Linked DNA regions of Homo sapiens: region 2 is linked to region 1. A link means that fine-mapping ties the variant in region 1 to the expression of a gene that starts in the linked region. Tissue or cell type: whole blood. Region 1 holds a variant in brackets; the other region holds the start of a gene. All regions are shown on one strand. Distances are from middle to middle.

The links. PIP is the estimated chance that this variant, and not a neighbour inherited with it, causes the effect.
Region 2: STARD10 starts here. The variant in region 1 is fine-mapped to the expression of STARD10 in whole blood (TOPMed, PIP above 0.99). The same link has a PIP of 0.9 or more in blood mononuclear cells.

What each region holds. Positions count from the first base shown.
Region 1 is chr11:73,104,547-73,109,266 of GRCh38, forward strand. All of the region lies in intron 2 of FCHSD2 (FCH and double SH3 domains 2), which reads right to left. Among named protein-coding and RNA genes, the nearest start is that of FCHSD2, 35 kb to the right of the region's middle. The variant C/T (reference allele first, on the strand shown) is at 2,168.
Region 2 is chr11:72,791,681-72,796,000 of GRCh38, forward strand. STARD10 (StAR related lipid transfer domain containing 10) reads right to left here and starts at 2,367. Exons shown (of 7, transcript NM_006645.3): 1 at 1,195-2,367. RefSeq lists enhancers at 492-991, 2,123-2,692.

The DNA.
Region 1 (4,720 bases):
CACCACACCTGGCCAAAACTTTACTTACTTATTTATTTTTGAGACAGACTCTCGCTCTGTCACCCAGGCTGGAGTGCAGTACCGCAATCTCATCTCACTGCAACCTTCACCTCCCGGGTTCAAGCCATTCTCCTGCCTCAGCCTCCCAAGTAGCTGGGACCACAGGCACGTGCCACCGCACCCGGCTAATTTTTGTATTTTTAGTAGAGACGGGGTTTCACCACCAGGCCAGGCTGGTCTCAAACTCCTGACCTCAGTGATCCGGCCTCCCAAAGTGCTGGGATTACAGGCCTGAGTCACCGTGCCTGGCCAACTTTACTAATTGAAAGCAAGAGAGCTATAGTACCAAATGGTGAAAATCTATATTTTACAATATAGTTTTACACGTTTAAATGAATGCATTTATTTCAAAGCAGCCTATCAACAGACCAAGCCACAGAGGCTGTCATGTAAAAACAATAATAATCCCTGCTAGTAAAGTACTTCAAGTTTTTCAAAGTCCTTTCCCATCTTATCCTACCTGACTTGACAATAACTCTATAAGGTAACCAGAATAGGTTATTCCCATTCCATAAATGAGGAAAGTACAAATCAGGGCAATTAAAAGACACACATAAAATTGCTACTAAGTAGCTCTGGTTAGGTGGGGGGAAGACTTAGGAAAAGAACCTAGTATCAATTTCATCTAAGACTCTTTCCACAATAATGTGCTATAAAAGGTGGTGATAAAAATGAAGCCAAAGATAAAGAGAATAAGGACAATGAAACAGGATAATAATCATTTACATTAGCTCCATGCTTTATCACACCTTCCCTTCCACTGTCTACAGTACACCCTCTATATAAGACACCACCATGCCCCAGAATCTACCAGGCTCTTTATTTGGTAACATTACTTTCCTAGGGAAGAACTCCAAAAGAAAGATAACTTGGGAAGTGAAAAGGGAATAGAGAAGAAATCATAAGATCTAAATCTTTCTAATCCTAACATTGGATAAGTATCTTTACTACTCTAAGCCTCAATTTTTACATCTACAAAATATACTTACTAGGCAGTTCTGAAGATTAAGTAAAATAAATGGATATAAAAGTCCTTTGAAAAACATAAAGAACTCAATAAATATTTATTATTAGGCTACAAATATGTGGTACAAAAACTCACAATAGGTGTCTTACATAATTGTGTTAATAAATTCAAATTATACTAATTATTTTTAAGTTTTACATAATCATACAAAAAATGAGATTTTAAAATATTTGAATAAATGGTCTATGGCAGAATTAACCATAATATTTGAATCTATTAAGTCTGAATGAAGAAAAAGCATTGTATTTCAGGTCTCTAATAAATCTGACAAAGTATCTGGTAAATAAGATACCTATAGAAGATACCTGGCAGAAGCAAGGCCTCTATCTTCACAGGTCTGTATACAAGCTAATATTTGCATCCAAGGATTTCCAGAATTATTCAGAATCATAAAATCAGAGAACTGGGATGAACTTTAGAAATTATGTGGAGAACATCTGTGGTTCACAGAAAAAGTAACTGAGGCCAAAAGTAAATAATTAATTTTACAAAATCTTGAAATTTCCCTTATTGGACCTCGGAGGAGTTGAGGGGAGAAACATAAAAGGAGGACTGCTTTGGCCAAGGAGTTCGAGACCAGCCTGGGAACATAGTGAGAACCCATCTCTACAAAAAGCACATGAATTAGCTGGACATGGTGACATAAACCTATATCCCCAGCATTCGGGAGGCTAAGGCAGGAGGATTGCTTGAGCCCATGAAGTCAAGGCTGCAGTGAGCTGTGATGGCACCACTACACTCCACCCTGGGTGACAGAATGAGACTCTGTCTCCAAAAAAAAAAAAAAAAGAAAAAGAAAAAAGAAACAAGAATTTCCTCCAGTTAGGCTCTTAAATCAGTATTCTGCTTGTTAAAGAACCCTGAAGTGCAAACTGTTACAGGAAGTGAAAGAATCCCTGCAACAGGTCTGAATACTACAACTTTAAGCAAAACAGTAGATAAGAATTTAACATTGTTGCAGGGTCATGAAACTTATTGATAAATAAATACAGTAACATAACATTTCCATAAAAAATGGACCACATATACAAGTGGGGTCCCCAAAAATTAGAATACCATATTTATGCTGTGTTTTTTCTA[C/T]GTTCAGAATCACAAAAACTTACCATTGTATCACAATTGCTTAAAGTATTCAGTACAGTAACATGCTGGACAGGTTTGTAGCCTAGGAACAACAGACCAGAGCCTCCATGTGCAGTAGGCTACGCACTCTAAGTTTGTGTAAGTACATTCTATGATGTTGATACAAGGATGAAATTACCTAATGATGCATTTCTCAGAATATATCCCTGACATTAAGCAACACATACCTGTATTGTGGAAAATTAAAACTCTACCACCAGATATCCTGGACTCGACTTTTTAAAGCCCACTTCACATCTCTATTATTTTTTGTTAGAAAAGCTATATATATATATATATTTTTAAATGGAGTCTCACTCTGTCACCAGGCTGCAGTGCAGTGGCGCAATATCGGCTCACTGCAACCTCCGCCTCCTGGGTTTCTTGATTCTCAAGACTCTCCGCAATTCTTGAGCCTCAGCCTTCTGAGTAGCTGGGATTACAGGCATGCGCCACCATACCCAGCTAAGTTTTGTATTTTTAGTAGAGACAGGGTTTCACCATGTTGGCCAGGATAGTCGATCTGACCTTGTGATCTGCCCAGCTCGGCCTCCCAAAGTGCTGAGATTACAGGCATGAGCTACCACACCTGGCCATTTTTTTTATTTTTAATTTTTGTAGGTATACAGCAGGTGTATATATAGATGAGGACATGAGATATTTTGATACAGGCATGCAATGCGTAATAATCACATTAGAGTAAATGGGGTATCCATCGCCTCAAGCATTTACGCTTTGTGTTACAAACAATCCAATTGTCACCCTGTTGTGCTATCAAATACTACTTCTTATTCTAATTGTTTATACCCATTAACCATCCTCACTTCCCACAAACACACACCCTCACTACCCTTCCCAGCCTCCAGTAAACTTCCTTCTACTCTCGAGTTCCATGAGTTCAAATGTTTTCATTTTTAGCTCCTACAAATAAATGACAACGTGCAAATTTATCTTTTCTGTGTCTGGCTTATTACACTAACATAATGATCTCCAGTTCCATCCATGTTGTTGCAAAGGACAGAATCTCATTCTTTTTTATGGCTGAATAGTACTCCACTGTGTGTATGTACCATGTTTTCTTTATCCATTTATCTGCTGATGGACACTCAGGTTGCTTCCAAATCTTGGCTACTATGAACAGTACTGCAATCGACATGGGTATCTTTTGGATATATACCCAGCACTGTGATTGATGGATTGTATGGCAAGTGTATCTTTAGTTTTCTGAGTGAACTCCAAATTATTCTCCATAGTTGTTGTACTAATTTACATTCCCACCAACACTGTCTGAGGGTCCCCTTTTCTCCACATCCTTGCCGGTGTTTGTTACTGTCTGTCTTTTGGATAAACGCCATTTGAACTGGGGTAATATCTCATTGTAGTTTTGATATGCATTTCTCTGATGATCAATGATGTTGCACCTGTTCAAATGCCTGTTTGTCAATGACTTCTTTTGAAAAATGTCCACTCAGATCTTTTGCCCATTTCTTAATCAGATTATTAGATCTTTTCCTATGAAGTTGTTTAAGCTCATTACATATTCTAGTTACTAATCCCTGGTAAGATAAAGAGTTTGCAAACACTTTCTCCCATTCTGTGGGTTATCTCTTCACTTTGTTGATTGTTTCCTTTGCTGTACATAAGCTTTTTCACTTCATGTAATCCTATTTGTTCACTTTTGCTAGGTTGCCTGTGCTTGTGTAGTATTACTCAAGAAATCTTTGCCCAGTCCAATGCCATGAAGAGGTTACCTAATGTTTTCTTTTAGCAGTTTCATAGATTGAGATTTTAGATTTAAGTTTTTTTTTTTGTTTGTTTTTTGTTTTTGAGACGGAGTCTCGCTCTGTCGCCCAGGCCGGACTGCGGACTGCAGTGGCGCAATCTCGGCTCACTGCAAGCTCCGCTTCCCGGGTTCACGCCATTCTCCTGCCTCAGCCTCCCGAGTAGCTGGGACTACAGGCGCCCGCCACCGCGCCCGGCTAATTTTTTTTTGTATTTTTAGTAGAGACGGGGTTTCACCTTGTTAGCCAGGATGGTCTCGATCTCCTGACCTCATGATCCACCCGCTTCGGCCTCCCAAAGTGCTGGGATTACAGGCGTGAGCCACCGCGCCCAGCCTAGATTTAAGTTTTTAACACAATTTGATTTGGTTTTTATATATGGCAAGAGACATGGGTCTGGTTTCATTCTTCTGCATACGGATATTCAGTTTTTCCAGCACCATTTATTGAAGAGACTGTCCTTTCCTCAATGTATGTTCTTTGCACCTTTGTCGAAAATGAGTTCACTGTAGATGTATGGATTTGCTTTTGGGTTCTCTATTCTGTTCCATTGACCTGTGTGTCTGTTTTTATGCCAGTACCATGCTGTTTTGTAGTATAATTTGAAGTCAGGTAATGTGATTCCTCCAATTTTGTTATTTTTGCTCAGGATAGCTTTGGCTAGCTATTCTGGGTCTTTTGTGGTTCCATATATATTTTAGAATTGCTTTTTCTATTTCTGTGAAGAATGTCA
Region 2 (4,320 bases), 310 kb before region 1:
CAACAAGAGTGAAATTCCGTCTCAAAAAAAAAAAAAGAGGTCCTTTTCCTTCTTTAGCCTCAGTTTCTCTGGCTGAAAAACAGAAATGATAAGTGAAGGCCCAGATAATTAAATGCTTGGAGGTGAATCCAAGATCCACCTCCAGATAATTCCATTGAATTATCTTGGATACCTTTTTGTTGTTGTGTTTTGTTTTGTTTTGTTTTGTTTTGAGACGGAGTTTCGTTCTTGTTGCCCAGGCTGGAGTGCAATGGCACCATCTCGGCCCACGACAACCTCCGCCTCCTGGGTTCAAGCGATTCTTCTGCCTCAGCCTCCCGAGTAGCTGGGACTACCGGCATACACCACCACACCTGGCTAATTTTTTTTTTTTTTTTTTTTTTTTTTGAGACAGAGTCTTACTCTGTCAGCCAGGCTGGAGTACAGTGGCGCCATCTCGGCTCACCGCAAGCTCCGTCTCCCGGGTTCACGCCATTCTCCTGCCCCAGCCTCCCGAGTAGCTGGGACTACAGGTGCCCGCCACAACGCCCGGTTAATTTTTTTTTTTGTATTTTTAGTAGAGATGGAGTTTCTCCACTTTGGTCAGGCTGATCTCAACCCCCAACCTCAGGTGATCCGCTCGCCTCAGCCTCCCAAAGTGCTGAGATTACAGGCGTGAGCCACCGTGCCTGGCCTATCTGGGATATCTTGAAGGATCTTGGATTTCTATTTCTACATATACCTGCCTTTCATGACTTGCCTGGGGAGGCCCAATCTGTAATGAGACCTCAGGGTCTCCCAGCCCTTCCCCCAACCTACCCCCAAAACCTCTAAGAGCACTCTAGAGAGAATCAGCTGCATACAGCCCAGCTCCACCGCTCCAAGGGTCAGAGAAAAGTCCCCTTCCCTGGGGTTAGCTGCATGATCCTGCAGGTGCCATGGTGTGCCTAGGTGCCACCTCGCTTCACCTGGCTGGGGAGTGGCTCCTAGACCTCAGCTCAATGCGCATCACTTCCCCTTCTCATCAGCCAGGCCAGCCCAGGTATCACCTCCAGCTCCACTGCCCCCAGATGGAGTTACCTGAGTACCCAATTCCTCCCAAGCTCAGAAACAGTGTCCACTGCCTTCCCACTCCTTTCCATTCAGAGTCTGTCCCCTTAGTGCTGCCCCCTCATCTGTCACACCTGGGTTCTTTCCCTTACTTGGGCCACTGACCTGAGAAGCAGGGTCTGTACAGCTCCAGCAACACTCTCCTCTTCCTCCAGAATTCTCCAGATCCTCCTCAGCTTCTTGGCTCTGGTGCTCATCTCAACACAGCAGGGTCTTCCTCCATCAGGCCAAGGTGGGGGTAGGAGAAGAATTGGGAACAGGGACTCCCCTAGGTTCTCAGGGTACAGTCAGTCAATCTAAGCCTGTATCCAACAAAGACACTGACCCCTGGGGTACAAGGAAGGGCTCCAGGCCCAAAGGCAGGAGGATTAGGCTTTAGCTCTTGCTCACAGCCTGCTGAGACCTGGGGCAAGCCCCTGTCCCTCTTTGGGCCCTCAGGTTTGCAATTTGCAGAATGAGGAAATGGGTTCCTCAATCTACAATCACCTGACTATAATAATATTTTGCCTTTATATACCGCGTGGGTAAATTCCTGAAAGTAAACTAAGCTGTTTTCACCCCTGGATCTCATTTGATCCTCCCAACAGCCTGTTTGCATTTACAAATGAGAAAGCTCAGTTCCCTAAGGGAACAAAATTACCCAAAGTCACACAGCAAGCTGGAAGCAGAGCCTGGGTGCAGTCCTTGAATCCTGATCCTTCCCTGGTCCTTTACTCTCTATGATGCTGGAAATCTGCCTGACTTCCTCTAACCTGTTGTCCCATTTGTAAAAGGACTGTTGTGAGGACTGAATTAGGAGAGGCGATGAAGAGGGTCATTCCTTGTGAATCATAAAAGAAAGGACCACAGAACGATGACTGGACCGTTAGGTTACTATTTATTACGGTTATCTTCGCTCAGGCGCCCCCACGTGTCGATCCCGAGACTCTCGGCTTGCGCAGGCGCTCTTTGGTGTTTACAGCGGCCGCGAAGCCCCGCGTTTGCGCGTGCGCTTCCCGCCCGGGACCGCCCAGAGGTCCCGGACTAGGGGCGGACTAGGGGCCGCTCTGCCTCCCGCCCCCTAGTGGTTGTGGCCGCTCTGTCACCACGGCTCCCGGGGCCTCTGTCGGCTCCACTTTGGTTGAGACGTCTCCACAGCCCAACAACGGCGGCGATCTGAGGAGAGGCAGGAGAAAATACGGCGCGCTCGGCATCGTCCTTCTGACCGGGGACTCCAGCATCTCAGTCATCGCGTCACCAAGCCCCACGTGCAGGTTCTGGCATCCATCATGGCAAACTGGAGACCGCGGTGAATTCCACCGGAATGGCGCGCGCATTGCCACATGGGAACTGTAGTTCTTGGCTAGGACCTTTCTGGGGCTGGGCCGCTGGAAAAACTACATTTCTCAGGAGCTCAAGAGTCAGGCTGACAGAAAGGGGGCCCGCGGCATGTTGGGAGATGGAGTTTGGGGGGTTCGTGCTAGCAGGGAAACAGTGAAGCAATGGAGCCAAGTGTTCTGAGCCTGGGCCTGTGGGTTTGAGTTGGGCAGGAGTTACACAGTAGCTCTTATAAGAGAGGAGTAGCATTGTTGCGGCTTTTAGAAAGAATGCTACTTATTAGTTGTGTGATCTGAGCGATCAAGACAAATGCCCCTTTATCTTTTTTATTTATTTATTTTTTGAGACAGGGTCTCTGTCTGTCAGGCTGGAGTGCAGTGGCCCCAGAACTGCTGGCCTCCCGCCTCACCCTCCCAAAGTGCTGGGATTATAGGCGTGAGCCATCAGGCCTGGCCAGATGCCTTTTTATCAACTACGATGGACCTTAAGGTTAAGGTTAAGGAAACAAACGTTGCCTACCTCAGGGCTCAGCTGTCAGCTGGCATGGCAACTTCTTAAATTTCTACTGCTGCCAGAAAAACCACACTCTTACTAAACCCCTAGCAATAGGAGCTATCATGCAAATTGTCAGACTCTTCTTTACTGAGATTTACAACTCAGACCACTACAACGCTGATCGACAGAGGACAGGCCTTACAAACATTCTTTCCTGATAAGTAACTGCAGACCTCAGGCCAGTTTCAGCAAGCTCATAGAGACTGCACGCAAACTGTGTTTGTGTCCTATAGTCCACCTTATGATGCAAAGAACCAAATTCCACCTCACTTTAACGCAAAAACCCCATCCCAAAGTGAACATGGAACATATGTTACAGGTGTTTACCCATTGTGCATGCACTCACATCCCCTCATAAATATGTATAGCTTTTCCCCAAAACCTGCTGAATATGTATGATTATTGTGAAATACAGACCCTGTGAGTCATAAACCAGCCTAGGCCGGGAGTGGTGGCTCACGCCTGTAATCCCAGCACTTTGGGAGGCCAAGACGGGCGGATCACGAGGTCAGAAGATTGAGACCATCCTGGCTAACATGGTGAAACCCCGTCTCTACTAAAAATACAAAAAAATTAGCTGGGTGTGGTGGCGGGCGCCTGTAGTCCCAGCTACTCGGGAGGCTGAGGCAGGAGAATGGCATGAACCTGGGAGGTGGAGGTTGCAGTGAGCCGAGATCGCACCACTGCATTCCAGCCTGGGCGACTGAGCGAGACTCCGTCTCAAAAAACAAAAACAAAAAACAACCAGCCTGCCTTTTCCCTATACAAAGAGAGAGCACCTTTGGTACCTACAGGAGAGTGTCTCTTTTCAGTTTGCAAACTGATGTCGCTAATGAAACTGCCCTCTACTATTTAGGCATCCTGGTGTTCTAGAGGGTAGCAGTCTGCACCTCTCACAGGGCTTCCTCTTCCATCACTCCTCAGAGACTGTATTCACAGGGGTCACCTGTGTGTGAGATGCAGTTTGTCTTTTTTGGGGGGAGGGCAGGGGCTGTTCGTTTGTGGTTTTTTTTTTGTTTTTTGTTTTTTTTTTTGAGACGGAGACTTGCTCTGTCATCTAGGCTGGAGTGCAGTGGCATGATCTGGGGCTCACTGCCAGCTCCGCCTCCCGGGTTCATGCCATTCTCCTGCCTCAGCCTCCTGAGTAGCTGGGTCTACAGGCACCCGCCACCACGCCGGGCTAATTTTTTTTTTTGTATTTTTTTAGTAGAGATGGGGTTTCACCGTGTTAGCCAGGATGGTCTCGATCTCCTGACCGTGTGATCCGCCCACCTCGGCCTCCCAAAGTGCTGGGATTACAGGTGTGAGCCACTGTGCCCGGCCTTGTTTTTGTTTTTTTGAGACAGGGTCTCATTCTGT